Regions from separate parts of the Homo sapiens genome. Here all the other regions are linked to region 1. The links come from fine-mapping of genetic effects on gene expression. A gene starts in region 1. Each other region holds a variant in brackets. All regions are shown on one strand. Distances are between the middles of the regions. Region 1 holds the start of CYP2D6 (cytochrome P450 family 2 subfamily D member 6 (gene/pseudogene)). Region 2 has its middle 5.2 kb from the start of TCF20. Region 3 overlaps TCF20 (transcription factor 20). Region 4 overlaps TCF20 (transcription factor 20). Region 5 overlaps XRCC6 (X-ray repair cross complementing 6). Region 6 overlaps SMDT1 (single-pass membrane protein with aspartate rich tail 1). Region 7 holds the start of CSDC2 (cold shock domain containing C2).

Region 1 (4,086 bases):
AGAAGAGACGTATCAGGTAGTCACAGTGGCTCAGGCCTGTAATCCCAGCACTTTGGGAGGCCCAGGTGGGAGGATCGCTTCACCCCAGGAATTCAAGACCAGCCTGGACAACTTGGAAGAACCCGGTCTCTACAAAAAATACAAAATTAGCTGGGATTGGGTGCGGTGGCTCATGCCTATAATCCCAGCACTTTGGGAGCCTGAGGTGGGTGGATCACCTGAAGTCAGGAGTTCAAGACTAGCCTGGCCAACATGGTGAAACCCTATCTCTACTGAAAATACAAAAAGCTAGACGTGGTGGCACACACCTGTAATCCCAGCTACTTAGGAGGCTGAGGCAGGAGAATTGCTTGAAGCCTAGAGGTGAAGGTTGTAGTGAGCCGAGATTGCATCATTGCACAATGGAGGGGAGCCACCAGCCTGGGCAACAAGAGGAAATCTCCGTCTCCAAAAAAAAAAAAAAAAAAAAAAGAATTAGGCTGGGTGGTGCCTGTAGTCCCAGCTACTTGGGAGGCAGGGGGTCCACTTGATGTCGAGACTGCAGTGAGCCATGATCCTGCCACTGCACTCCGGCCTGGGCAACAGAGTGAGACCCTGTCTAAAGAAAAAAAAAATAAAGCAACATATCCTGAACAAAGGATCCTCCATAACGTTCCCACCAGATTTCTAATCAGAAACATGGAGGCCAGAAAGCAGTGGAGGAGGACGACCCTCAGGCAGCCCGGGAGGATGTTGTCACAGGCTGGGGCAAGGGCCTTCCGGCTACCAACTGGGAGCTCTGGGAACAGCCCTGTTGCAAACAAGAAGCCATAGCCCGGCCAGAGCCCAGGAATGTGGGCTGGGCTGGGAGCAGCCTCTGGACAGGAGTGGTCCCATCCAGGAAACCTCCGGCATGGCTGGGAAGTGGGGTACTTGGTGCCGGGTCTGTATGTGTGTGTGACTGGTGTGTGTGAGAGAGAATGTGTGCCCTAAGTGTCAGTGTGAGTCTGTGTATGTGTGAATATTGTCTTTGTGTGGGTGATTTTCTGCGTGTGTAATCGTGTCCCTGCAAGTGTGAACAAGTGGACAAGTGTCTGGGAGTGGACAAGAGATCTGTGCACCATCAGGTGTGTGCATAGCGTCTGTGCATGTCAAGAGTGCAAGGTGAAGTGAAGGGACCAGGCCCATGATGCCACTCATCATCAGGAGCTCTAAGGCCCCAGGTAAGTGCCAGTGACAGATAAGGGTGCTGAAGGTCACTCTGGAGTGGGCAGGTGGGGGTAGGGAAAGGGCAAGGCCATGTTCTGGAGGAGGGGTTGTGACTACATTAGGGTGTATGAGCCTAGCTGGGAGGTGGATGGCCGGGTCCACTGAAACCCTGGTTATCCCAGAAGGCTTTGCAGGCTTCAGGAGCTTGGAGTGGGGAGAGGGGGTGACTTCTCCGACCAGGCCCCTCCACCGGCCTACCCTGGGTAAGGGCCTGGAGCAGGAAGCAGGGGCAAGAACCTCTGGAGCAGCCCATACCCGCCCTGGCCTGACTCTGCCACTGGCAGCACAGTCAACACAGCAGGTTCACTCACAGCAGAGGGCAAAGGCCATCATCAGCTCCCTTTATAAGGGAAGGGTCACGCGCTCGGTGTGCTGAGAGTGTCCTGCCTGGTCCTCTGTGCCTGGTGGGGTGGGGGTGCCAGGTGTGTCCAGAGGAGCCCATTTGGTAGTGAGGCAGGTATGGGGCTAGAAGCACTGGTGCCCCTGGCCGTGATAGTGGCCATCTTCCTGCTCCTGGTGGACCTGATGCACCGGCGCCAACGCTGGGCTGCACGCTACCCACCAGGCCCCCTGCCACTGCCCGGGCTGGGCAACCTGCTGCATGTGGACTTCCAGAACACACCATACTGCTTCGACCAGGTGAGGGAGGAGGTCCTGGAGGGCGGCAGAGGTGCTGAGGCTCCCCTACCAGAAGCAAACATGGATGGTGGGTGAAACCACAGGCTGGACCAGAAGCCAGGCTGAGAAGGGGAAGCAGGTTTGGGGGACGTCCTGGAGAAGGGCATTTATACATGGCATGAAGGACTGGATTTTCCAAAGGCCAAGGAAGAGTAGGGCAAGGGCCTGGAGGTGGAGCTGGACTTGGCAGTGGGCATGCAAGCCCATTGGGCAACATATGTTATGGAGTACAAAGTCCCTTCTGCTGACACCAGAAGGAAAGGCCTTGGGAATGGAAGATGAGTTAGTCCTGAGTGCCGTTTAAATCACGAAATCGAGGATGAAGGGGGTGCAGTGACCCGGTTCAAACCTTTTGCACTGTGGGTCCTCGGGCCTCACTGCTCACCGGCATGGACCATCATCTGGGAATGGGATGCTAACTGGGGCCTCTCGGCAATTTTGGTGACTCTTGCAAGGTCATACCTGGGTGACGCATCCAAACTGAGTTCCTCCATCACAGAAGGTGTGACCCCCACCCCCGCCCCACGATCAGGAGGCTGGGTCTCCTCCTTCCACCTGCTCACTCCTGGTAGCCCCGGGGGTCGTCCAAGGTTCAAATAGGACTAGGACCTGTAGTCTGGGGTGATCCTGGCTTGACAAGAGGCCCTGACCCTCCCTCTGCAGTTGCGGCGCCGCTTCGGGGACGTGTTCAGCCTGCAGCTGGCCTGGACGCCGGTGGTCGTGCTCAATGGGCTGGCGGCCGTGCGCGAGGCGCTGGTGACCCACGGCGAGGACACCGCCGACCGCCCGCCTGTGCCCATCACCCAGATCCTGGGTTTCGGGCCGCGTTCCCAAGGCAAGCAGCGGTGGGGACAGAGACAGATTTCCGTGGGACCCGGGTGGGTGATGACCGTAGTCCGAGCTGGGCAGAGAGGGCGCGGGGTCGTGGACATGAAACAGGCCAGCGAGTGGGGACAGCGGGCCAAGAAACCACCTGCACTAGGGAGGTGTGAGCATGGGGACGAGGGCGGGGCTTGTGACGAGTGGGCGGGGCCACTGCCGAGACCTGGCAGGAGCCCAATGGGTGAGGCTGGCGCATTTCCCAGCTGGAATCCGGTGTCGAAGTGGGGGGCGGGGACCGCACCTGTGCTGTAAGCTCAGTGTGGGTGGCGCGGGGCCCGCGGGGTCTTCCCTGAGTGCAAAGGCGGTCAGGGTGGGCAGAGACGAGGTGGGGCAAAGCCCTGCCCCAGCCAAGGGAGCAAGGTGGATGCACAAAGAGTGGGCCCTGTGACCAGCTGGACAGAGCCAGGGACTGCGGGAGACCAGGGGGAGCATAGGGTTGGAGTGGGTGGTGGATGGTGGGGCTAATGCCTTCATGGCCACGCGCACGTGCCCGTCCCACCCCCAGGGGTGTTCCTGGCGCGCTATGGGCCCGCGTGGCGCGAGCAGAGGCGCTTCTCCGTGTCCACCTTGCGCAACTTGGGCCTGGGCAAGAAGTCGCTGGAGCAGTGGGTGACCGAGGAGGCCGCCTGCCTTTGTGCCGCCTTCGCCAACCACTCCGGTGGGTGATGGGCAGAAGGGCACAAAGCGGGAACTGGGAAGGCGGGGGACGGGGAAGGCGACCCCTTACCCGCATCTCCCACCCCCAGGACGCCCCTTTCGCCCCAACGGTCTCTTGGACAAAGCCGTGAGCAACGTGATCGCCTCCCTCACCTGCGGGCGCCGCTTCGAGTACGACGACCCTCGCTTCCTCAGGCTGCTGGACCTAGCTCAGGAGGGACTGAAGGAGGAGTCGGGCTTTCTGCGCGAGGTGCGGAGCGAGAGACCGAGGAGTCTCTGCAGGGCGAGCTCCCGAGAGGTGCCGGGGCTGGACTGGGGCCTCGGAAGAGCAGGATTTGCATAGATGGGTTTGGGAAAGGACATTCCAGGAGACCCCACTGTAAGAAGGGCCTGGAGGAGGAGGGGACATCTCAGACATGGTCGTGGGAGAGGTGTGCCCGGGTCAGGGGGCACCAGGAGAGGCCAAGGACTCTGTACCTCCTATCCACGTCAGAGATTTCGATTTTAGGTTTCTCCTCTGGGCAAGGAGAGAGGGTGGAGGCTGGCACTTGGGGAGGGACTTGGTGAGGTCAGTGGTAAGGACAGGCAGGCCCTGGGTCTACCTGGAGATGGCTGGGGCCT
Region 2 (4,092 bases), 150 kb before region 1:
TTTGAGAGCTTGGCCTAGGAAGAGGGATATGGAAACTCACATCCAAAACCCTGATGACTGAGGTTCAGGGTGACGTGACACAGGGCCTGCACTTCTCAGAAGAGGCTCAGCCACAGGGCAGGATCGCGTCTAAATACATACTGGCTTGTGTCCTGTGCTCAGAATCCTTCATCATCTCCTCTTTTTGCCCAGGGATAAAGTCGCAAAGCCTCTGTGGCCTGTACTGTCCTGCTCCAGCTGCATCTCCAGCTTTCTCATTTCACTTACATTACCCTGCAGGCCCCTGTGCCCTTCCTGGAAATCTACTTGTTCCCTCCTACCGCAGGGCCTTTGCCCATGCCGTGCCCTCTGCCTGGAGCTCTCCTCCAACTTCACCATGTGGTTACTTCCTACTTGTCTTTCAGGCCTCAGCTCAAATGTCCTAGATCCCCAAGGCTCAGGGTCCCTATTGTACATCTGCTGTGCTCCTGCCACACTTTCTTACTAATTTGTATCATGGCTGTTATCAGATGATTATTTATGTGATGATTCTTTTTCTAACAGCTCCATGGCACCATAAACTTCATGACCACAGGGACCCTTGGGATCAATGCTTGTCATAAGGGCTCAGTCAATGTTTGTTGAATGAATGAATAAGTGTTAAGAGTTTGTGGAGGAGGTGGCATTTGAGTAAGACTTGAAAGAGGATATAATTTCAATCTGTAGGGAAGAGGGAACGGCATTCCTGCTGCAGGGAGCAGACAGGCACAGGACAGGAAGCCAACTTGTCTAGTTAGACAGAGAGGCAGAATGAGACCTGGGAGAGAAGGTTTGGAGAAGCAAGCGGAGCCAGATAGAGCATTGTATTCCAGGCTGATAGGAATAAACTTGAATGGTGAAGCCGCTCAGGACCCACTGACAGACTTCTGAGCCAGGGGGAGCAAAGTTAAAACCGGCTTTGGATAACTGTAATGAATCCGCCACAGGGATGGGTGGGCAGGGAAAAGTGGCTCCAGTCGAGGACCAGTTAAGAGTTGGAGAATTCACGGCTCCTGCTGCTTTCTGCTCCCCTGGAATCAAACGTGATTTTGCAATTATCCCCGAGAGCTCGCAGGGAGATGCAGGGCAGTGATGAGGAACCTCACACGGCGTGGCTGCTTCCAGAAGACAATCGCCTTGGCATCAGGGCAGCTATCCCCGAGTCACTAGAGGGAGAGACGGAGTTGATTAAGCATCGGCATCTGCGTTTCTTGGCTTCTCCTATTGAGAAGGCAGCATCCAGCTCTGCATCCCTGCACCTGTGTCCTGGTGCCTTCTATTAATAAGTGGCCCAGGAATCTTGACGCTGAAGGACCAACCTGTGGCAGAAGATGAGCAGAAACATTTCTGTCAAATGCCCAGCAAACAAGACTCCACGCCTCCGTGGGGAGCCAGCACATAAGAGTCAGGACTCTTGAGGACCTGAGGACAAATCCCAGCACCACCACTTAGCAGCTGTGCACCTTCGAGCATCTTCTAAGTGACTCTGGGCCTCCATTTCTTCACTTGTGAAAATGGAGGCTGCCCTGGTGTTGTGAAGGTTAAGGTTAAGTGACATATATGGATCCCCAAGCACAGGGAACACTGGAGGCTCAGGAAGTAGTGGCCGTTATCATGGCTGCGTTTTTCTCCATGGTTTGAATTCTTAGCAGGAAGCTTCGGTTTCAGGCTTAAAAATGAAGAGCATGTCAACAAAACAGGATGGAACAAAGTCTTTTCCCAGCATGCCTCAGCATGTGGCACTGCCTTCCCGTGGAGCCCAGACAATGATGTGGCTAAAAGTCTTGAGCTTTCAGGCAGAAATAATCCCAAAGGAAAGGAACTTCCTTATTGTCATCTTATAACAAAGCAACGCAGGGGCCCTGTAGCCTGTCAGATTCAGCTCTGCCCCCTCCGAGCTGCTCTGTGCCTCAGTTTCCTCATCTGCAAAATGAGGCGAGAACAGTACCCACTTTATAGGGTTGTTGTAAGGATTAAGCAAGTTACTGCAGGAAAAGCGCTTAGAGCATGCCTTTGTCACTGCGACTCTTAGATCATTTCATATTCAGGTTAACTCTTTGTAGTGCCCTGAGTGACTCTGTGGGGGCTTTGGAGCCAGAAGACTGAGTTCAAATCACAGCCTCTTCCTAGCTGTGTGACCTGGGCAAGTCTCTTAACCTCTGTGTGCACCCATTTCCTGCTCTGTACAATGAAGATGACAATCCCTGCCTCATGGGTTTGTTGTGAGGAGTGAATGGGATCACTCAGGTAAGGGCGCCGACTCCCCTGAGGCAGGCAGCTCACCTGGCCCCTCCCAGCCC[A/G]ATTTACAGCTGAAGAAATTGGATGATTTAAAGACACACACTGGTGAGACCAGGCTGGCGCCAGCTCAGTGACTGGCCCGATGAGAGTCCAGCCACTGGGGACAGTGAGTGCCGGGCAGGTGGGGGTGATCTGTGCGCTCAGGTTGCACGGGCTTCCCGTTTCTTGGCCTATCCTCAGGTGTTAGCTCTCTGCTCACCTGTGGGGAAGATGTGTAAGTCGATTCACAGCAGCTGCTGCTTGTTGGGCAGACCGTGGTCTTCCAGGCATGGGGTCCGAGAGTCTGAGGCCCCCCGACCTGCCCGAGCTGCCCAGTGTCCAGGGCTTAATATATGACTGCTGGAGGGGCTGGCGCTGCCCATGCCGTCCTCTTACATTCTTTCCCTATCGGCCTGCAGACTTTTGGTCCTACTGACTGTCTAGGTCCATCTCTGTCTTTCCAGTGTTTGCTGAGTGCTGGGAAGCTTGGTGGTTAAGAGTGCAGCCTCTGAAAACCTGGGTTCAAATACCAGCTCAGCCTCTTCCAAACTGTGTGACTTGGGATAAGTTAAACTCTTTGCACCTCAGTGGCCCCATCTGTAAAATAGGGGTGATAACAGTACCAAACTCATTAGACTGCTGCAAATAAGAAGAACTGGGATGATAAAGGGAAATCTGCATAGTGCCTGGTTCATAGTAAGCCTGGATTCCTCTGGGCTGTATCATCCTCATTAACATCATTTTAATGGACATGGTGCCCTACCCTGCACAGGATGCCGGAGACCCAAGAGAAGCAGAGGTGTCTCTGCCCTGCATATGCTCACAGTCCAGGGGGAGAGATGGATGCATCCCAGATTAGGATGCCACACTTCTATCCTGGAGGGCAGAGTGGAGGGGCAAACCTGGAGAGCAGAAGTTTCTGTGGGACCCTGTGAAACAAATCCATGCCAAACATGTCAATGCTCTAAGGCCCTGCAGGATCCCACCCTTGCCCAACTCCGCAGCTTCATCTTTTTCCCCTGCACTGGGCACAGTCCTCCTGGGCACAGCAGGTGGCTCTCCCCCACACCCCTAAGTCTTGGTATTCTCTGGTCCTCTGTTTTAAGGCCCTCCCCACCACCATAACTTTAGAGCCTCCCCTGACCTTGCCCCAGAAAGAACTGTTCTGAGCCCCCATGCTCCCTCCATGCGGGCTCAGAGACTTGCACAAAGCAGGGGCTCCTGTGGAATGAGGGCACAGAATGAGGGCGTGCCCACAGAGGCTCTCCACCCCTGCTGTTTGTGCACTCTCAGTATCCTTGTGCTTTGCAAGGGGACAGTGCGTGGCTTGGGGACAGGCACAGCAGGAGGCTGTGGGGAGTTTCCCGCTCTGTTAGCCAGAGGCTTTTGTAAGTTGCCTCCTGGCAGACTGCAGATGAAGCCCCGAGCTTGTGAGCAGGAATTCCAGGCCTCCCTCTTGGTGTGACTGAGTTAGCAGGCGGCGCCTCCCAAGAGGAAGGAGAGCTGGAGCTTGGTGAAGGATAAAGGTGAGGGCTGTGTGTCTGCTCACGAGAGCTGGCAAGTGAGGAAGGACATCCGCCTGCTCTGAAGGCACCGACACCCTGGCTCACTTCGCACAAGTCACTGATCTGCCGAGCAGGGCCAGTCTCCTCAATCAATCCACGCTGACAGATGGTAGTAGAATCAGTGACCTAGAGGCAGAAGGCTCCATTTGTAATCCTGGAGTGGCCCAGGCGCCTGGAGGAGGGCAGAGGAGTTTGTAATAAAAGGAGTGATACAGTGTTTCCAAAAGCCGTC
Region 3 (4,092 bases), 48 kb before region 1:
AGCATTAGGAGTGCCTGCCAGGTGGAATAGTGCAGAGGGCTGGATGAGATCATTCAGTCTGAGCGTGGCGAGCGCTTGGGCTTTGCTGTTGCTGGCGTTAGTGTAGTTTTCCATCAGTATCTGTGTCGGGGGCCTGAGCCAGCTCAGTGTAATTGCTTAGGGAACACTTTTATTTTTCATAGAAGCAGGAACAAGTTTCTGTCTCTTCCAGCTAGTCTTGCTGGTTGTGTGCCTCTGCTATCTGAAGAGCCAGCATCCTTAGTAGGGTCACATGTGGTTGAGTTTTATGAATGTGTTTGTTGCTGATAGGACACATTTCTTACCTGACAGGATGAGCACTCACAGCAGCCACATCACAGGGCTGACAGAGATGTGCCCCACTTTAAGAAAACCTGACCATATAAGGAGGAGTGTCTCAATTACAAAATAATGTCTCACTTAGCCAGAAATTCATGGCAGGTTTTCTGGTGCATTTAAAATAAGATTCATGTATAAAAATACCATTTGCACACAGGAGCCCATATTTTCTGAAAAGGGAAATGTATTGGGCATTTGGGGTAAGTAGATCAAAAATAAAAATAAAATCTTCTTACAAATACAAGAACTAGAAACCAAATTCCACTTCTAATTCTAAAAGGTTTATATATAACTCTACTACCTTACCCTCTCTTACCCCAGATTTTCACAGCAGAAGTAAACAGGGAAGATCTGCAGGCCGCTCACGATAGCAGCAAGGAAATGCCTGGCATAGTGTGTGGGTGGGTGGATGGCGGGGGTACCAGAGGCAGGGCTGGGGACCCCACTCTGGCATGTCCTTTATGACATGGATTGCTCATCTCACCCTGCTGTATTGTTGATTTGAGAACATTTGTGAGGCTTGGTCTAAAACATTATTGCTGGATCCCTTCCCATGGTGTGGTCAGTGAATGGCATTTAGAAATTGACCAGCTCATCCTGCCACCACGGACTCCTCTAACCACAGAGACACGTGCTGAGGTCTAACAGATGGGGACCAGGGAAGGCCTGGAGGAGAGGGCCAAATCTGGGATACTGACATGCCTGACTTTTCCCTTCCTTTCAGAAATGTTCCCACTGCCAGGAGGCAGGCGCCACCTTGGGCTGCTACAACAAAGGCTGCTCCTTCCGATACCATTACCCGTGTGCCATTGATGCAGGTAAGAGGAGACCACAGACCCTTGTCCAGAGCATCCAAAGGATTAGGACATACAGTTTGATTCTCTCTGTTGTCGTTGTTTTTTTTCTTTTCTTTTCTTTTTTTTTTTTTTTTTTTTTGTCACTTCATAAAAAAACTTCCCACCCATTAGCAGCACTCATCTCCCTTCCCTTCCCTCCAGTCCCTGGCAACCACTATTCTGTTTTCTTTTTTAAATTTTTATGATTTTTTTTTCCCTTTAAGCTCTGTTGGACTCAATCCTTTCTATCTCTGTGGGCTTTGCTGTACATTTGGGTTACTTCCACTTTTTGACTGTTATGAATAATGCTGCTATAGAACATTCACATGCAAGCATTTGTGTGAACATGTTTTCAGTTCTCTTGGATGTGTACCTGGGAGTAGAATTGCTGGATCATATGGTAACTCTGTTTAACCTTTTAAGGAACTGTCAGACTGTTTTCCAAAATGGCTGCCCCATTTTACGTTCTCAGTGGCAGTGCATGAGTGTTCTCCTTTCCCCAGGTCCTCCCTGACACTTGCTGTCATATGTGTTTCTTTTTTTTTTTTTTTTTAATTGTAGCCAGCCCAGTGGGTATGAAATGTTATTTCATTGTGGTTTTTATTTGTATTTCCCTGATGGCTAATGTCGAGCATTTTTTTCTTGTGCCTATTGGCCATTTGTACATCTTCTTTGGAGAAATAGCTATTCACATCCTTTGCCCATTGTAAAATTGGGTTGTTTATCTTTTTAATGTCAAGTTTTAAGAATTATTTGTAGGCCGGGCGGGTGGATCATGGGGTCAGGAGTTCAAGACCAGCCTGGCTAAAATAGTGAAACCCCGTCTCTACTAAAACTACAAAAATTAGCCAGATGTGACGCGCACCTATAGTCCCAGCTACTCGGGAGTCTGAGGCAGGAGAATCACTTGAACCCGGGAGGCAGAGGTTGCGAGATCACGCCACTGCACTCCAGCCTGGGCAACAGAGTGAGACTCTGTCTCAAAAAAAAAAAAAAAAAAAAAAAGAATTATTTGTAATTCTGGATATGTGGTTTGCAAAT[G/A]TTTTCTTCCATTCTCTGAGTTGTCTTTTTACTTTCTTTTCTTGATAGCATCACACAGGTAATTCACCATTGGACACCAACTGGGTGTCCTATAGTTTAGCTTGGTTCTGATACTAAGCAGAGTTAGTGCAGCCCCTACAGGTTAAGGGCTCAGTCCCACAAGACCGCTCCCCACTTCATATACCAATCTCAAGCCCTGTGTTATGACCTGTGTTTCTGAGTGATCAACTATAAACTGGGGTTCCCAAGACCGCTTCCTTGGGTTTGATTAATGTTTAACATGGCTCACAGAATTCACGGAAACACTTCACTTGTGTTTACCCATTATAAAGGATGCAGATGAACAGCCACATGAAAGAAACATAGGGCCAGATGTGTGGGCAGGGGCATGGAGCGTCCATGCTCTCTCCAGGGGCACCACCCCTGAGGCACCTTCATCTACTCAGCAGTCCAGAAGCCCTCTGAATCCAGTAGTTCACGGATTTTTTGGAGGCTTCATCATGTAGGCATAATCAATTATTAACTCAATCTTCACCCCCTCTGTCCTTCCTGGAGTGGGGTGGGTAGAGCTAACAGTTCCAAGCTGCTAATCACAGCTTCGTCTCTCTGGTGCCCAGCCCCCATCCAGGAACCACCAAGAGTAGCCTTAGAACAAAAAGTGCTCCTATCCAGGAAATTCCAAGGGTTTAGGAGCTCCATGTCAGGAACCAGGATCAAAAACCAAATATTAGAAGAAAAGATGCTCCTAGCACCCCTAATTGCTCAGGAATTTACACGGGTTTTAGGAGGTCTGTGCCAGGAATCAGGGATGAAGACTAAAATATGTATTTCTTACTCTAAATCACAGTACGTTGTATACATACAATAGAGTGTTGTATTTTCTTTGCTGAGATGATAGGGGGATGTTTTGCAGTGTGTTAACTGTTGAAAGAAGGGAAACATTTTGTTAAAGAAGTGCCATCCAATGAGTGACGCAGAAGACTTGAGTTTTGACTCAGAGCTTCGATAACCTGGGAAAATCACCTTTCTTACTCTAGACTTTTAGTCCCTTCAGTGGGTGTTTTCCCCAGTTACTTTTTTGGCGGCAAGGTGGGTGTTAATTTCAAGTTTATTAAGTTTTTTACTTTTCTTTTTGAGACGAAGTTTCGCTCTTATCGCCCAGGCTAAAGTACAATGGCATGATCTCAGCCCACTGCAACCTCTGCCTCCCAGATTCAAGTGATTCTCCTGCCACAGCCTCCCGAGTAGCTGGGACTACAGGCGCCCACCACCATGCCCGGCTAATTTTTGTATTTTTAGTAGAGACGGGGTTTTGCCATGTTGGCCAGGCTGGTTTCAAACTCCCGACCTCAGGTGATCCACCCACCTCAGCCTCCCAAAGTGCTGGGATTACAGACGTGAGCCACCGCGCCCAGCGTTTTTTACTTTTTTTAATGGACAGTAATTGTAGATATGGGGTGCTCAGTAATGTTTCAATATATATATAAAATGATCAGACCTAGGTAATTAGCAAATCCATCGTCTCAAACAACATGTCTGTGTTGGGAACATTTGGTATCTTCTAGTCATTTGAAACTATACAATATAATGTTGTTAACTGTGGTTATCCTACAGTGATACAGAATACTAGAACTTATTTCTCCCATCTAGATGTAATTTTGTATTCTTTAACAAATCTCTACTTATCTCTTCCTTTCCTTTCCCCTTCCTGGCCTCTAGTATCCTCTGTTCTACTTTTTAATACTTCCGTAAGATCAGCTTTTTAAATTTCCACATGAGCGAGAACATGCAGCTTTTAACTTTCCGTGCCTGGCTTATTTCACTTGACATAATGTCCTCTAGTTACTTGAGCATTAGA
Region 4 (4,092 bases), 110 kb before region 1:
CTCCCAAAGTGCTGGGATTACAGGCATGAGCCACCGCGCCCAGCCTTAAACTTTTAAAATTGTTATCTGTCATGAAGATCTGTGATCAGTGATCATCGATGTTACTTTTTTTTTTCTTTTTTGAGATGGAGTCTCGCTCTGTCGCCCAGGCTGGAGTGCAGTGGTGCGATTTCGGCTCACTGCAAGCTCTGCCTGCCGCGTTCACGCCATTCTCCTGCGTCAGCCTCCCGAGTAGCTGGGACTACAGGTGCCCGCCATCACACCTGGCTAATTTTTTTGTATTTTTAGTAGAGACAGGGTTTCACCGTGTTAGCCAGGTTGGTCTCAATCTCCTGACCTCATGATCCACCCACCTCGGCCTCCCAAAGTGCTGGGATTACAGGCGTGAGCCACCGCGCCCGGCCTGATGTTACTTTTGTAATTGTTTTGGAGCGCCACAAAGCACTCCCATATAAGACGGCGAACTTAATATATACATGTTGTGTATAGATGTGTGTTCAGACTGCTGCCAACTGGGTGTCCCCCCATCTCACCACCTCCTCAGGTCTCTCTGTTACCTCAGACACAACAGTATTGAAGTTAGGTCAGTTAATAACCTGATCATGACCATTAAATGTTCAAGTGACAGGAAGAATTGCACATCTCTCACTTTTAAATCAGAAGCTAGAAATGATGGTTTAGTGAGGAAGGCATGTCAAAAGCCAAGATAGGCTGAATACTAGGCCTATTGCACCAAACGTGGCCAAGTTATGAATGCAAGAAAAGGTTCTTGAAGAAAGTTAAAAGTACAACTCCAGTGAACACATGAATGAGAAGAAAACGAAACAGCTTATTGCTGATATGGAAAAGTTTTAGTGACTCAGATGGAAAATCAACCAGCCGCAACATTCCCTTAAGCCAGAGCCTAATCCCAGAGCAAGACTTTCTCTTTTCACTTCTGTGAAGGCTGAAAAAAGTAAGAAGCTGCAGAAGTGAAGTTTGAAGCTAGCACAGATTGGTTCCTAAAGTTCTTGAAACCATCTCTGTAACATTAAAATGCAAGTTGAAGCAAGTGCTAATGTAGAAGCTGCAGCAAGTTATCTAGAAGATGTAGCCAAGATCACTGATGAAGGTGGCTATATTGAACAGATATTCAGTGTAGCCTTATGTCAGAAAAGATGCCATCTAGGACTTCCATAATTAGGAGAAGTCAGTGCCTGGCTTCAAAAGACAGGCTGACTGTTATTAGGAGCTGGTGTAGCTGGTGAATTTAGGTTGATGCCAGTGCTCATTTACCATTCTAATAATTCTAGGGCCCATAAATTTATGCTAAATCTACTCTGCCTGTGCTCTGTCAGTGGATCAACAAAACCTAGATGACAGCACATCTGTTTACAGAATGGTTTAATGAATATTTTAAGGCCACTGTTGAGACCTACTACTCAAAAGATTTCTTTCAGAATATTACTTCTTGACAGTATACCTGGTCACCTAAGAGCTCTGATGGAAATGTATAAGGAGATAAATGTTGTTTTCATGCTTGCTAACACAACATCTATTCTGCAGCCCCTGGATCAAGGAATCATTTTGATTTTCAAGTCTTATTTAAGAAATATGTTTCATAAGGCTCTAGCTGCTATACATAATAATTCCTCTAGTGGGTCTGGGCAGAGTGAATTGAAAACCTTTCGGAAAGGATTTACCATTCTAAATGCCATTAAGAACATTTGTGATTCATGGGAGGAGGTCAGTACATGAACAGGAGTTTGGAAGATGATTCCAGCCCTCATGGATGACTTTGAGGGGTTCAGGACTTCAGTGGAGGCAGGAACTGCAGATGTGGTAGAAATAGCAAGAGAACTCGAATTAAAAGTGGAGCCTGGAGATGTGACTGGATTGCTGTAATCTCATGATAAAACTTGAACAGATGAGGAGTTGCTGCTTATGGATGAGCAAAGAAAGTGATTTATTGAGATGGAATCTACTCCTGATGAAGATGCTGTGAACATTGTTGAAATGCCAATGAAAGATTTAGAATATTACATAAACGTAGTTGATTAAGCAGTGGCGGGGTTGAAGAGAACTGACTGCAGTTTTGAAAGAAGTTCCACTGTGGGTAAAATGCTATCAAACAGTTTGGCATGCTATAGAAAAATCTCTTAGAAAAGGAAGAGCCAGTCGATGCGTCAGACTTCATGGGTGTGTTATTTGAAGAAATTTGCCACAGCCACCTCAGCCTTCAGCAACCACCACCCTAATTAGTCAGCAGCCATCAACATGGAGGCAAGACCCTCCGTCAGCAAAAAGATTAGGACTCCCTGAAGGCTCAGATGATTGTTAGCATTTTTTAACGATAAAGTATTTTTTAAATTAAGGTATGAACATTGTCTTTTAGACATAATACCATTTCACACTTAGTAGACTGAAGTATAGCGTACACATATAAAAGTTAATATGTGCTGGAAAACCAGAAAATTTGTGTGACTCGCTTTATTGCCAC[G/A]GTCTGGAACCAGACCCACAATACCTGCAATGTTATGCTTGTGGCTGATTTTTCATAGAATGTTTGTGTCTCTTTGACTTTTTTATTTTCAAAATTTAGGATTGCAGGTGACTCTCCATTGGCTTATTTCAGAATGACTGGGGTTAGGGTGTTTGCTAATTGCATGCCAGTGGTCAGGGAAGAAGGGAAAACTCTTGCACTTTAGAGGCCATCTGCCTCCAAGTAGAGCTCCAACTGTCAGGCCACTGTCCCTCTGTGGGGAGGGTGGGGATTGGTCCTGTGGCTTGTAGTTCTTGCCATATAGATTAAGAATGCGCTCCGTCGGCATTCTTCATTGTGAATTAGAGGATTGATGAGGATTTAACCCTGCTGTGATTTCTATGAATGGACTGTAGATCCCAGGGTGTGGGATCTTTCCTAACTCGAGAATGACAAAAATTACCTGTCACAGAGTGCTGTTACACCAATCAGTAGTTATTTATTGTGTTTTTTAGGGTTTATTTTGTTTGTTTGATAACCTCTTTTCCATTTTTTTCCTTGTTGTCTTTTACTTGTTTTTTTGTTTTTGTTTTTGTTTGTTTTTTTGAAGTGGAATCTCACTGTCACCCAGGCTGGAGTGTGCAGTGGTGAGATCTCGGCTCACTGCAACCTCTGCTTCCTGGGTGTACAAGCAAGTGATTCTCGGATTACAGGTGCCTGCCACCATGCCCAGCTAATTTTTGTATTTTTGGTAGAGACAGGGTTTCACCATGTTGGCCAGGCTGATCTTGAACTCCTGACCTCAAGTGATCTGCCTGCCTCGGCCTCCCAAAGTGCTGGGATTATAGGCGTGAGCCACCATGTCTGGTGTCTTTTACTTATTTTATTATTGGTTCAAGTTTTTACCTGAGAGAGGGAAAGAGGGTGGTAATTCTAACAGTGATAATTTTGATTTATATGGTACTTAGCTGTTTGCAGACTTACTGTGGGACATTCCCGTGTGGTGGCAAGGTAGGTTAACTCCACTTTTGCAGGTGAAGAATGTGAGACATATGGGTTAAATAACTTGCCCAAGTCACAGAACAAGTGGCAAGACTAGGAAGTATTTAGATTTCTTAATTCTAAATGTAGTACTTTTTCCAACAGATGACCCAGAAGAATCAATAGAAAACAAATTTAATAGTGGAAGCAATTGTATGTACAAATAAAATTGTATTTTTTGTTCACTTCGCTTACTAAAATAAAATCCTATTTCTAGATGATTTTCTAAACATGTTTTTCTTGGTCTCTTTGTTCAAGTCATTTAGTTTGACTCTAGGTAAGATAGTACTACTCAATGTTCTTTCTGTCACTTCAGGAGAGAGATGGTGTGCACCAGTTGATACCCAATGTTCCCTTGTTCTTCTCCCTGATATTACATCAGAGAAGTCCCCAGTTGAGAAGGGAGGAGGAAAGTTTTATGGTTACTGTTCCTCAAATCTCTTGGGAAAGACAGCAAACTGCTGTCAGGAGTAGTTTTCTTTTGTCTCAGTGTCTGTTACATTTATACATGGCACCCTCCTTATCATAGTTATGGCTTGCACCCTAAAATAAGGTCTAGAGCGACAGACATTTACAAAGTTCTTTTTTTTTTT
Region 5 (4,000 bases), 500 kb after region 1:
GTTCTAAAAATTAAAAACAAAAACTAAAACAGAATTTTAGAAAATGTTTTCTATTGCTTATCAACTACTGAATACTTATTATCGGTTATCAAATTGTGCTCATCTATGAATGTCTCATTTCCTTCCTACCTAACACTACATTTTCTTCTGAGGTCTTTAGGCATCAAGGGTTCCATTAACTCTCTGAAATTACAGGTAGAATTGTGAGTACTATCTTTTTTGAGGGGAAGGTATGTAGCTGTCATCATATCCTCAAAGAGGTCCACGGTTGGCCAGGTGCGGTGGCTCATGCCTGTAATCCCAGCACTTTGGGAGGCCGAAGTGGGCAGATCACGAGGTCAGGAGATGGAGACCATCCTGGCTAACATGGTGAAACCCCATCTCTACTAAAAAACAAGAACAAAAAATTAGCCGGGTGTGGTGGTGGGTGCCTGTAGTCCCAGCTACTCAGGAGGCTGAGGCAGGAGAATGGTGTGAACCCAGGAGGCAGAGCTTGCAGTGAGCCAAGAGCCAGGGCAGCAAAGCGAGACTCCGTCTCAAAAAAAAAAAAAAATAGGTCCACGGTCTAAAAAAGGTTAAAGCACTGCTCTTCAAAGTAATGGTCTCCAAATCAGTAACATCAGCATCACCTGACAATTTACTAGAAATGCAAATTCTTGGTCCCCATTCTAGACATAGAGAATCAGAAATTTTGATTGTGGGGCAAGGTTCTGTAGTCTGTGTTTTAATGTCCTGCAAGTAATTCTGTTTGAGAACCACTTTAAATTAACGATTGTTTTTATTCATAGTTCTATTATTTTATTTTACATACACTTTTTTTTTTTGAGACAGAGTCTGGCTCTATTGCCCAGGCTGGACTGCAATAGTGCCATCTCGGCTCACTGCAACCTCTGCCTCCCAGGTGCAAGCGATTCTCCTGCCTCAGCCTCTGGAGTAGCTGAGACTACAGGCGCACGCCACCACACCCAGCTAATTTTTGTATTTTTAGTAGAGACGAGGTTTCACCATTTTGGCCAGGATGGTTTTGATCTCTTGACCTCGTGATCCGCCCACCTCGGCCTCCCAAAGTGCTGGGATTACAGGCATGAGCCACCGCGCCCAGCCTTTTCTTTTTTTTTTTTTTTCCAAGAGACAGGGTCTTACTCTGTTGCCCAGGCTAGAGTTCACTGGCACAATCATAGCTCAGTGCAGCCTCAAACTCCTGGGCTCAAGCAATCCTCTCACCCCGGCCTCCTGAGTAGCTGGGACTACAAGTGCACACCACCACACCCAGCTTATTCTTTTTTTTTGGTGCAAGATATTCTGGTGTGCCAACTACAAGAACTATTTCTTGTTTTCTTGAGATGGAGTCTCTCTCTGTCACCCAGGATGGAGTGCAGTGGCGTGATCCTGGCTCACTGCAACGTCCACCTCCCCAGTTCAAGCAATTCTCCTGCCTCAGCCTCCTGAATAGCTGCAACTACAGGCCTGCACTACCATGCCCGGCTAATTTTTGTATTTTGAGTAGAGACAGAATTTCACCATGTTGGCCAGGCTGGTCTCGAACTCCTGACCTCAAGTGATTCACTCACCTCAGCCTCCCAAAGTGCTGGGATTACAGGCGTGAGCCACCACACCCTGCCTACCAAGAACTATTTGTACACAAATTAGAACATGAAAAGTTTCTGTTCAGTTCCAAATTCTAAAATTATGAGACATGAGATATATAATAAATCTGTGAAAATTCTTCTCTACGAAGTACACAAAAGAAACAGTAATCCCTCTCCCTCTCCCTCTCCCTATCCCTCTCCCCACGGTCTCCCTCTCCCCACGGTCTCCCTCTCCCTCTCTTTCCACGGTCTCCCTCTGATGCCGAGCCGAAGCTGGACTGTACTGCTGCCATCTCGGCTCACTGCAACCTCCCTGCCTGATTCTCCTGCCTCAGCCTGCCGAGCACCTGCGATTGCAGGCGCGTGCCGCCACGCCTGACTGGTTTTCGTATTTTTTTGGTGGAGACGGGGTTTCGCTGTGTTGGCCAGGCTGGTCTCCAGCTCCTAACCGCGAGTGATCCGCCAGCCTCGGCCTCCGGAGGTGCCGGGATTGCAGACGGTGTCTGGTTCACTCAGTGCTCAATGGTGCCCAGGCTGGAGTACAGTGGTGTGATCTCGGCTTGCTACAACCTCCACCTCCCAGCCGCCTGCCTTGGCCTCCC[A/G]AAGTGCCCAGAGTGCAGCCTCTGCCCGGCCGCCACCCCGTCTGGGAAGTGAGGAGTGTCTCTGCCTGGCCGCCCATCGTCTGGGATGTGAGGAGCCCCTCTGCCTGGCTGCCCAGTCTGGAAAGTGAGGAGCGTCTCTGCCCAGCCGCCATCCCATCTAGGAAGTGAGGAGCGTCTCTGCCCGGCCGCCCATCGTCTGAGATGTGGGGAGCGCCTTTGCCCCGCCGCCCCGTCTGGGATGTGAGGAGCGCCTCTGCCCAGCCGTGACCCCGTCTGGGAGGTGAGGAGCGTCTCTGCCCAGCCGCCCCATCTGAGAAGGGAGGAGACCCTCCACCCGGCAACCGCCCCGTCGGAGAAGTGAGGAGCCCCTCTGTCCGGGAGCCGCCCCGTCTGAGAAGTGAGGAGCCCCTCCGCCCGGCAGCCACCCCATCTGGGAAGTGAGGAGCCTCTCCGCCCAGCAGCCGACCCGTCCGGGAGGGAGGTGGGGGGTCAGCCCCAGCCAGGCCAGCCGCCCCATCCGGGAGGTGAGGGGCGCCTCTGCCCAGCCGCCCCTACTGGGAAGTGAGGAGCCCCTCTGCCTGGCCAGCCGCCCCGTCCGGGAGGGAGGTGGGGGGGTCAGCCCCCCGCCCTGCCAGCCGCCCCGTCCAGGAGGGAGGTGGGGGGGTCATCCCCCCACCCGGCCAGCAGCCCTGTCCGGGAGGTGAGGGGCGCCTCTGCCCGGCCGCCCCTACTGGGAAGTGAGGAGCCCCTCTGCCCAGCCACCACCCCGTCTGGGAGGTGTGCCCAACAGCTCATTGAGAACGGGCCATGATGACAATGGTGGTTTTGTGGAATAGAAAGCGGGGAAAGGTGGGGAAAAGATTGAGAAATCGGATGGTTGCCGTGTCTGTGTGGAAAAAAGTAGACATGGGAGACTTTTCATTTTGTTCTGTACTAAGAAAAATTCTTCTGCCTTGGGATCCTGTTGATCTGTGACCTTACCCCACAACCCTGTGCTCTCTGAAACATGTGCTGTGTCCACTCAGGGTTAAATGGATTGAAGGCAGCATGCTCGTTAAGAGTCATCACCACTCCCTAATCTCAAGTACCCAGGGACACAAACACTGCGGAAGGCCTCAGGGTCCTCTGCCTAGGAAAACCAGAGACCTTTGTTCACTTGTTTATCTGCTGACCTTCCCTCCACTATTGTCCTATGACCCTGCCAAATCCCCCTCTGTGAGAAACACCCAAGAATGATCAATAAAAAAAATAAATTAAAAAAAAAAAAAAAGAAACACTAATCTTTTTAATTAAGCTGAAATTTAGATTTTCTAAGTGAACAATTAAGAGGTATTTAATACATTCACAATGTGCCAGGCATAGTGGCACATGCCTTAACCCCAGCCACACAGGAGGCTGAGGTGGGTGGATTGCTTGAGCCCAGGAGTTCCAAACCAGCCTGAGCAATAGTGAGACACCATCTCAAAAAAAAAAAGCAAGGCCGGGTGCCATGGCTCACGCCTGCAATCCCAGCACTTTGGAAGGCCGAGGCGAGCAGATCACGAGGTCAGGGGTCCAAGACCATCCTGGCCAATATGGTGAAACCCCATCTCTACTAAAAATACAAAAATTAGCTGGGCATGGTGACACGTGCCTGTAATCTCACCTACTCGGGAGGCTGAGGCAGGAGAATCGCTTGAACCAGGGAGTCAGAGGTTGTAGTGAGCCAAGATTGTGCCACTGCACTCCAGCCTGGTGACAGAGCGAGACTCCAACTCAAAAAAAAAAAAAAAAAAAGCATAAATGCACACACAAGGCTGGGCGCAGTGG
Region 6 (4,000 bases), 48 kb after region 1:
CTCACTGCAAGCTCTGCCTCGCGGGTTCACGCCATTCTTCTCCTGCCTCAGCCTCCCGAGTAGCTGGGACTACAGGTGCCCGCCACCACACCCGGCTAATTTCTTCTATTTTTTAATAGAGACAGAGTTTCACTGTGTTAGCCAGGATGGTCTCGCTCTCCTGACCTTGTGATCTGCCCGCCTTGGCCTCCCAAAGTGCTGGGGTTACAGGTGTGAGCCACCGCACCTGGCTGACCCCTTCTTTTTAATTTGCTGGAGCAGCTTGCAGAACTCAGAGGAACACTTAGGTCCGTTTACTGGTTTATTATAAAGGATATCACAAAAGATACAGCTGAAGAGATGCATAGGGTGAGGTATAGAAGGGGCGTGGAGCTTCCAAGTTCTCTCCAGGCGTGCCACTTTGCAAAGCCAAGTGTTCTGTTCTCCGAAAGCTCTCTAAACCTGTCTTCTTGGGCCTTTTATGGAGACCTCATTGGATAGGGATGATTGAAGCATGGACAACACTGGAGAAATGGGATTGGACAAAAGAGGCATAATCTAATACAGATGGAGTGGGGAAGTCCAACAAGGCCTGTCTACATTTCTTCCTCTCAGGTATGGGGCAGAATCCCTTCTGAAATGGGGGTCTCATGACCTAAAATCAGACAAGGTAGGTCAGAGGATTCTTTTTATGGCCAACTGGAAGACGGGCAAAGGAAGATTATACTTTTAGTTTCTATGGCCTGCCTTGGGGAGAAAAAGCAGCAGGTGAAAGGAGGTCAGGAGAAGATCTGAGAAACAGCCTGCTGTTTTCTGAGGCCCGAAGTGCCCAACATTATAACAAAAGCCTAAAACAAGGGTTTTGGGAGTTATAAGCCAGGAAATAGATGAAAACCTATCTATATCCTCATATCACAGAACCCGAGTTTTGAATCATTCTAGTTATATTTAAGTAGTATGCTAACAAGCAGAGCTGTCATGACTGGCACTGAACACAGAATGGCATGAGGCTTTAGTTAGCCCATGAAGCTTTCTTAAGGGAAAATGCACAGTTTCTGTTGGGCTTTTGTAAACAATGAAAATAGTTCCCAGGGCCCCCAGAATAGTTCACCAGGCTCCACTGCAGCCTGGATAGCCTGGGCCTATGTTTCTCCCATAAATAAAGGACAGCAGAGACAACTGCACCAACTAGAACCTAGGGATACTGAGAAACTGCAGCCATCACTCAGTCACGCACGGCTGATATTTATTATGTTTATTCATAATTTGATTGCTTGTTTGTGCAGTGCTTAGTGGACAGCACATCTCAGGGAGCCTCCCAGAGCCTGGGGTGGAATACGGTCATGGACCATACAGGAAGCTTCACCAGACTGGGAGGCTGAGGGCCTTCCCCGAGCCTTTCTGCTGATAGGGAAGGCAGAGAAACTGAGAGCATCACCATTTCTTCAGTTAGTGCTTTCTCCTTTCTGTAATTCCTGTAAGAAAGGAAAGCAGCAGTGAACTGGGCAACAGCGTAGTCTTCCATCCGCAGACTGAAAGAATTCCACAAAGTGCTTCTATCAAACATGGCAGGAGAAAGGCAGCTTTGAGCACGTTTGGTTGTTCATGCGCACGTTAACTGGGCATTCACCACAGGCCAGGCACTGGGGGCCGCAATGTATAAAAAACGTCCCCTGCCAGCAAGAAGCTCAGAGTCTAGTAAAATTTTGCTTTGTGTGTGTTTAGCCACATAATACCGAGTATTTGAAGAGAGGTACTGGTTGCTTAGAGGAAGGAGCCGTCAACTTTCAAATGAAAGGAGGAACGAAGACTTCAAAGACACTGTAGAATGGGTGGAATTAAGACCCAGAGCTCTGGGAAGGAGCCTTCCATGTGGGAG[G/A]AACAATGAGCCAATGTTTGGGGGTGGGTATGAGTGTGAAAACTCAAGAAATGGTGAATACTGGGAATCGGTGTGTGGCTGGAAATATGGAAGATGAGACTGGAATAAGAGGTGTGACCAGATTATGGCAAGCCTTGAATGCCAGGCTAAGGAACAGGAGTGTCCTCATCTCTTGACAGAATGCCATGCAGCACATATTAGAGCACATGAAGTTGGCTGGGCGCAGTGGCTCACGCCTGTAATCACAGCACTTTGGGAGGCCAAGGTGGGTGGATCACCTGAGGTCGGGAGTTTGAGACTAGCCTGGCTAACATGGAGAAACCCCGTCTCTACTAAAAATACAAAATTAGCCAGGCACAGTGGCGCATGTCTGTAATCCCAGCTACCCGGTAGGCTGAGGCAGGAGAATCGCTTGAACCTGGAAGGCAGAGGTTGCAGTGAGTCGAGATCATGCCATTGCACTCCAGCCTGGGCAACAAGAGCGAAACTCCGTCTCAAAAAACAAACAAACGAAAACATTAGCCACCAAGTGGGCCAATTCATTAATGCTTCTGCCCCCAGTGTCCAAATGCTGCTACCAGGCCAGACTGCATCACAGACAGATGCTCCACCCTGCTTCCTGCTCCATCTAGGGTAAAGCAAGTCTTACCTGTTAGTCATCATCATCATCATCCTCTGGAACAAAAATGTCATGTTCCTCAAGTAGAGCAGCAAAGTTCTTGCTAATGAGTGTCCCGACATAGAGAAAGGGGATCACAATGGAGAACACACGGAGAAGGCCGAAGGACATCTGCAGAGGGTCAGAGTGGCAGCTGTGAGCTCCAGAGCCCACTCTGGCAGGACCAAAGAAGACCTGGCCCTCTCACAGACATACCCTCAGACCCATCATAAGCAACTTGATTTTAAAGTCCTTGGAAAAATTCAGGGCAAGAAAAGTAATTAGAAAAGGAGAAGGCCAGGCAGGGTGGCTCACACCTTTAATCCCAGCACTTTGGGAGGCTGAGGTGGGTGGACCACCTGAGGTCAGGAGCTTGAGACCAGCCTGGCCAACATGGTGAAATCCCGTCTCTACTAAAAATACAAAAAATTGACCCAGCATGGTGGTGCGCACCTGTAATCCCAGCTACTCGGGAGGCTGAGGCAGGATAATTGCTTGAATCCAGGAGGCAGAAGTTGCAGTGAGCCAAGATTGCACCATTCCACTCCAGCCTGGGAGACAGAGTGAGGCTCTGTCTAAAAAAAAGACAAAAGGCCGGGCGCAGTGGCTCACACCTGTAATCCCAGCACTTTGGGAGGCTGAGGCGGGCGGATCACGAGGTCAGAAGTTCGAAATCAGCCTGGCTAACATAGTGAAACCCCGTCTCTACTAAAAATACAAAAAATTAGCCGGGTGTGGTGGTACATGCCTGTAGTCCCAGCTACTCAGAAGGCTGAGGCAGAAGAATCACTTGAACCCGGGAGGCGGAGGCTGCAGTGAGCCAAGATTGTGCCACTGTACTCCAGCCTGGGTGACAGAGTGAGACTCCGTCTCAAAAAAAAAAAAAAGGAGATAAGGTGACTGTTATGGCCATCAAAATGGACGAAAAGTCCACTGGAAAGAAAAGTCTAAGGCACCCTAGACATCTAAAGTTAGGACACAGCCTGCTAATTACTTTAAATCCCTACAGGCAATCGGGTGCACCAGTACTAGGAGGGCCAGACTACGGTGAGCTCTGCCTGAACACGAAATACACGAAAACCGATGACAGAAAGATGTACAGTGAAGGGATATTCTACACAGTTCACTAAGTAACAGGTTCCCTGATGCCTGAGAAATTTGATTTAAAAATTTTAGAAACAGATGTATTTGAAAGTGGGCATGTATTTACACTCAAAGACTTTAGATGGATTGGGAGAATGTCAGTAAAATCTCAGCAACATTTCTCTCGTATTCCTAGAATTAAAAAAATTTTTTTTTCAACTGTTTTGATAAGGCAGGTCTTTCCCAACATGGACCTACAGTCAATTGTGTGAGTTAGCATAGGCTAGACTAGCTTTAAGAGAATTTGTTTTTTTAACTCCCACACCACACAGCCCTGCAGTCGTAAAGCAAACTTTCGCTTGATATAAGGGACTGTTTCCGTTTTCCCTAGAAAAACTCAA
Region 7 (4,092 bases), 570 kb after region 1:
GCTCGGTTAATTTTTCTTTTTTTTTTTTTGTATTTTTAGTAGAGACGGGGTTTCACCGTGTTAGCCAGGATGGTCTCGATCTCCCGACCTCGTGATCCGCCCGCCTCAGCCTCCCAAAGTGCTGGGATTACAGGCATGAGCCACTGCGCCTGGCTTAGTACACCCATCTTCTAAAGAGTAAACTGAGGCTCAGAGAGGTGAAGAGCCTCGCTGAGCTCTCACAGCAGGTCAGGTGCAGCATATCTGCCCTCTGGAGATGTCTGGGGAGGTGAAGACCAGCCATTCCTTGAGGGTGGCGCCCACCCTCCCCTGGAGAAGGAGGAGTCGGGTGTGGAATTCCTGGGGAGCCAGGACTGGGGCTTTTATTTCTGGCTTTGCGCTGACTCAGACCATGACCTTGGGTGAGTCACTCACCAACTCTGCTAAGCTTAAAAACAACTCCCCCAATAAAAATGTCCCAGCCCCAAGCCCCCATCACAGGGGAGCAGATGGGAGGAATGGGTACGGTGGTTTAAAAATAGAAAGGACGGGGAACACAAGGATGACGCTGGAAGGGCTTCCCGAACATCGGGAGCTTGTGCATGGTGGGCCCTGGGAGAGTGAGAAAACAAACTCAGGACCCCCGGGCAGGAGCTGACACTTCCCTGGCTCCTCCCCCTCCCCCAGCCTCCCAGATGCTCCTTAAAATACATCAGTGCCTGAACTGCTCTTGCAGCCTGAGGTGACCTGATTAAACCTGGTCCTTCCCCCACACAGCCTGTGTGCCTGCGTCTGTGCATGAGGGCTGCCCCAGCCAATACTTGAGCTTAATTATTTAAGAGACCCTGTAGTCCTCCTTGTCACATGCCCAGGCTGCCCTGGGGAACTGCTGTGGTTAAGGCCTTTGGGCTTCTGTGGCTTGGGTGGTGGTGGGGAAACCAGGACGGCACTGGGAGAGCCAAATACGCACCCCAGTCCCACCTGTGCTTGGCTGTGCGACCCTAGGCAAGTCACTTTCCCATTTTGAGACCCCCTAGAGAGAGGAATAGACTGGTCAAAGTCATACATACATACAGCATCTGAACTTGAACTCCAATCAGTGTGACCCCACAGCTTTCTGGTGTGCCATGCCAGCCCCCCAGCCCAGGAGTGTCATTTTGCTGGCTGTGGGGCAGAAGAGCTCCCTACTACTTTTAGCCTCCCATTTTGCTGCTCAGCATGGACAAAGGTCTGAACTGCCCCAAGCCCCATTCCTACAAGGCTCTGGGTCCTGGCTGCCCCAGTTGTGACCGTGGACATGACTGGCTCAGCCAGGTCCTGAGCGCCCTCTACCCCCTAGGGGGCTCTACTCCAGACTGGCTGGCAGGTGTCCCCTCCCCACCAGCCATCTGAGAGTGTCCCCAAGTCCCCCTCAGGGAATCCCCCTGCGCATCCGTGAACATTGCCTAGCCATGTCTCTCCAAGCCTGGGAGAGCCATCTGTGGCCAAAACTGTCCTCTGGCCTTTCCCAGGACACGGGCAGGCAGTTCCTGTCTATACCTGTCTTTTTTTTTTTTTTTGAAGGGGGTGAGGATGGGTCAAGATGGGCAGACACAGAAAACAGACATTTTTGGAGAAGACTTCAAGGAAATGGGGGGCGGCAGGGCAAAGCTGGGAGGAGGAAACATTCAGAATTTGGAGGGTCCAGAGGACTCTGGGATGGAGTCAGGTTTGGGAAACCAGTTCCCCATCCCCCAGAAAGCTGGAGACCCCCTTTCCCAGGGAGAGGCCCCTGCCGGATCACAGCCAGGCAGCATGATGCCAGGCTCTCAGAGAGGTTGCCCACCCCCCACTGGGCATACTTCCTCCTCTCCTACCCCAGCCCCAGTGGATGCAGCAGTTCACACTCTGTATTTATTATTGTTCTCGCTCTGTGTCCCCCTCCCCTCTCCCTGGGAAGAGCCTGCAGGCTGGCAGCTTGGCAGGAACCTGCTGTCTCCTTGTGGGTGCCAGCGTCGCCCCTTATCTCCGCCTGGACTCCTTGTGCCAGGGTCAGGCCATTCATGGGCTTGGCACCAGCCAAGGCCACCCTAAGTCCCTGTATCCCAAGATAGAGGCCTGGCAGGCCCTGACTTATCACCCCTGCCCTCCGGGGGCTGTGCCCTGGCAAGGGTGGAGGTCAGAGCAGACCAGCAGGCAGGCAAGAAGCAAGGGCTCGGGGTGGGGTGGTACCTGGGGGAAGAGAATAACCACACGGAGCCACCTCTCTAAGCCAACTAACACAATTATCCCCATCACACTGGGGAAAAAATAGAGTCAGGATAAGACAGCTGCTCCAGGTCCAACTGTCTGCCTTTCCCAGCCGGTCCCTTCCCAGCCCAACATTCCAGGGGAAGGACCAGCAAGGGTCCCTGCTGCACTCTGCTTTCAGCAACTGGAAGCGGCACTGGGGTTTCTCTGGTCAAGGCGGTCCTCTCTCC[C/T]GCTGCTTCCCAGACAGGAGGCTGCGGCTTGGCAGGTATCTGCTGCTCTCTGCCTCCTGAGCCAGACGCAGGTCCCAGACACAGACACAGACACAGACACAGACATGCTCCCACGGGAGCCACACGGCCTCACCTCATTTGGGGGTCACGGGGAGAGAATGAGGGAGGGAGAGACAGGTGGTATCCTCTATACCCCCAACACCCTATCTGTAAGCTGAACTGGGCTGATCCAGCCCCCACCTTCACGTTGTACCTCTCTCCTTCGGCCTGGCCAAAGCCACAGTTTCTGGCACAGTGTCCTCAGGCCCCATCTAGCCCCTCACCTCTCCTGGGCAGCTGGGGTCCAGGCACTGCCTCCTGCGGCGTCCGCGCTCTGTCTCTCTCTGGCTCGTGGAGCTGGCAGGCAGGGGATGGGTCTGGAAGATGTGTGTGTGTGTGTGTGTGTGTGTGTGTGTGTGTGTCTGTGTGTGCTCGCGCGGGCGGTACCTCAGCCCCTCACTCACTCACACGCCTTCCAGCTGACGTCAGGGAGAGCAGGAGGGAGGGATGAGAATTTGTACTCCCTGCTTAAAGGGACACCAGGCTCTGTGGCTCATGGCCCAGACATCACCTCCTGAGTCAGGCACTGCCAGGTGAGAGGCTCAGCTGCGTCTCTCGGGGGCCTTAAAGCTTCTTTTTTTGGAAAGTGGCTTTTATGGTCGGGCCACGGTATAATTTGCCCTGCCCAGTGAGGGCAGCTGCTGAGGAATGCAGGGGAGGAAGAACCTGAGACAGCGCCACGTTCCTGGTAATTAGAGAGCAAGTGGGGTGGTGAGTTTGAGTGTGAGTGTGTGAGTGCACACTGGGGGGCCCCTCGGGGTGGGTGGGCATGAGTGGGGGTGAGTCTGGGAGAATGGAGGTCAGAGCCAAGAGGAGCCCCCCAGAGGGGTCGAGACAAGCCAGGTTCCCAGGGACACCCAGACACTCGTCTCCCCTCCGGACGCTCAGTGGTCCTGCCCTCTGCTAGTACAGACACTGACACGGCTCATCTCTGTCTACCCCTTGTAATATTTCCATGGAATTGAATTGACGAGGACCCCAAGGAAGTGATCGGCTTGAAGGTGCACAGGTGAACACCCCACAGCCTGGGAGGCTCTGAGTAGAGAAGTAGAGAGGGCTGATTGAATTCAGGCACCCAGCCTGTTCTACACCACACGCCCTGGCTTCGAAGTGCTCCGCACTGTCAAGCTGTGTGACCTTGGGCCAGCCCCTGAGGGCCTTTGGAGGTTGAGTGTGTGATGTTCCTAAACCCAGGGCCAGCTGGAGGAGGCCTCCACAAAGGTGCTTCTCTTCGTTCTTCCCATTCCTTCTCAGCCTCAGCTTGGAAAGAAGGAAGCCTTTCCCTGGTGTCTCCTGGTACTACTGAGGCAGGCTGGCATTTTCAAAAGGAGTCTTTTTAAAATAAAAAGGAGGTGGGAGTTAAAAGGGAAACCGCAGAGAAAAATACAAGTAACTAATACAAATAGCTAAGACGCCACAAGAGCTTGCTCTGTTTCAGGCAGCAAGCTTTGCCCTCATTGAAACCTCACAACAATTTAATAATTTATTTTTATCATCCCTACTTTACCGGTGAGGAATTAGAGGCTCAGGGAGGAGGAAGGACTTGACTTGCCTA

Evidence for each region. PIP is the estimated chance that this variant, and not a neighbour inherited with it, causes the effect.
Region 2: its variant is the best candidate, but not a certain one, in a credible set for the expression of CYP2D6 in whole blood (INTERVAL, PIP 0.57).
Region 3: its variant is the best candidate, but not a certain one, in a credible set for the expression of CYP2D6 in cultured neurons (Aygun 2021, PIP 0.77).
Region 4: its variant is the best candidate, but not a certain one, in a credible set for the expression of CYP2D6 in whole blood (TOPMed, PIP 0.66).
Region 5: its variant is the best candidate, but not a certain one, in a credible set for the expression of CYP2D6 in whole blood (INTERVAL, PIP 0.53).
Region 6: its variant is the best candidate, but not a certain one, in a credible set for the expression of CYP2D6 in pancreas (GTEx, PIP 0.69).
Region 7: its variant is the best candidate, but not a certain one, in a credible set for the expression of CYP2D6 in whole blood (INTERVAL, PIP 0.69).

What each region holds. Positions count from the first base shown.
Region 1 is chr22:42,128,413-42,132,498 of GRCh38, reverse strand. It overlaps CYP2D6 (cytochrome P450 family 2 subfamily D member 6 (gene/pseudogene)), which reads left to right and starts at 1,689. Exons shown (of 9, transcript NM_000106.6): 1 at 1,689-1,887; 2 at 2,590-2,761; 3 at 3,314-3,466; 4 at 3,555-3,715. The coding sequence starts at 1,708. RefSeq lists a cis regulatory region at 393-404 and promoters at 98-1,630, 1,217-1,683.
Region 2 is chr22:42,273,788-42,277,879 of GRCh38, reverse strand. It overlaps a transcript of TCF20 not described here and the pseudogene OGFRP1. Among named protein-coding and RNA genes, the nearest start is that of TCF20, 5.2 kb to the right of the region's middle. RefSeq lists enhancers at 1,421-2,217, 2,218-3,014. The variant A/G (reference allele first, on the strand shown) is at 2,319.
Region 3 is chr22:42,176,692-42,180,783 of GRCh38, reverse strand. TCF20 (transcription factor 20) reads left to right here. Exons shown (of 6, transcript NM_001378418.1): 3 at 1,082-1,175. Among named protein-coding and RNA genes, the nearest start is that of CYP2D6, 48 kb to the right of the region's middle. The variant G/A (reference allele first, on the strand shown) is at 2,235.
Region 4 is chr22:42,235,148-42,239,239 of GRCh38, reverse strand. All of the region lies in intron 1 of TCF20 (transcription factor 20), which reads left to right. Among named protein-coding and RNA genes, the nearest start is that of TCF20, 33 kb to the left of the region's middle. The variant G/A (reference allele first, on the strand shown) is at 2,480.
Region 5 is chr22:41,629,951-41,633,950 of GRCh38, reverse strand. All of the region lies in intron 3 of XRCC6 (X-ray repair cross complementing 6), which reads right to left. Among named protein-coding and RNA genes, the nearest start is that of XRCC6, 11 kb to the right of the region's middle. RefSeq lists an enhancer at 2,893-3,546. The variant A/G (reference allele first, on the strand shown) is at 2,192.
Region 6 is chr22:42,080,573-42,084,572 of GRCh38, reverse strand. SMDT1 (single-pass membrane protein with aspartate rich tail 1) reads right to left here. Exons shown (of 3, transcript NM_033318.5): 2 at 2,508-2,648; 3 at 289-1,454. The coding sequence ends at 2,511. Among named protein-coding and RNA genes, the nearest start is that of SMDT1, 2.9 kb to the right of the region's middle. The variant G/A (reference allele first, on the strand shown) is at 1,859.
Region 7 is chr22:41,559,853-41,563,944 of GRCh38, reverse strand. CSDC2 (cold shock domain containing C2) reads right to left here and starts at 2,935. Exons shown (of 4, transcript NM_014460.4): 1 at 2,762-2,935. It overlaps LOC105373044 (a long non-coding RNA gene), which reads left to right and starts at 3,062. Exons shown (of 2, transcript NR_134631.1): 1 at 3,062-3,225. The variant C/T (reference allele first, on the strand shown) is at 2,439.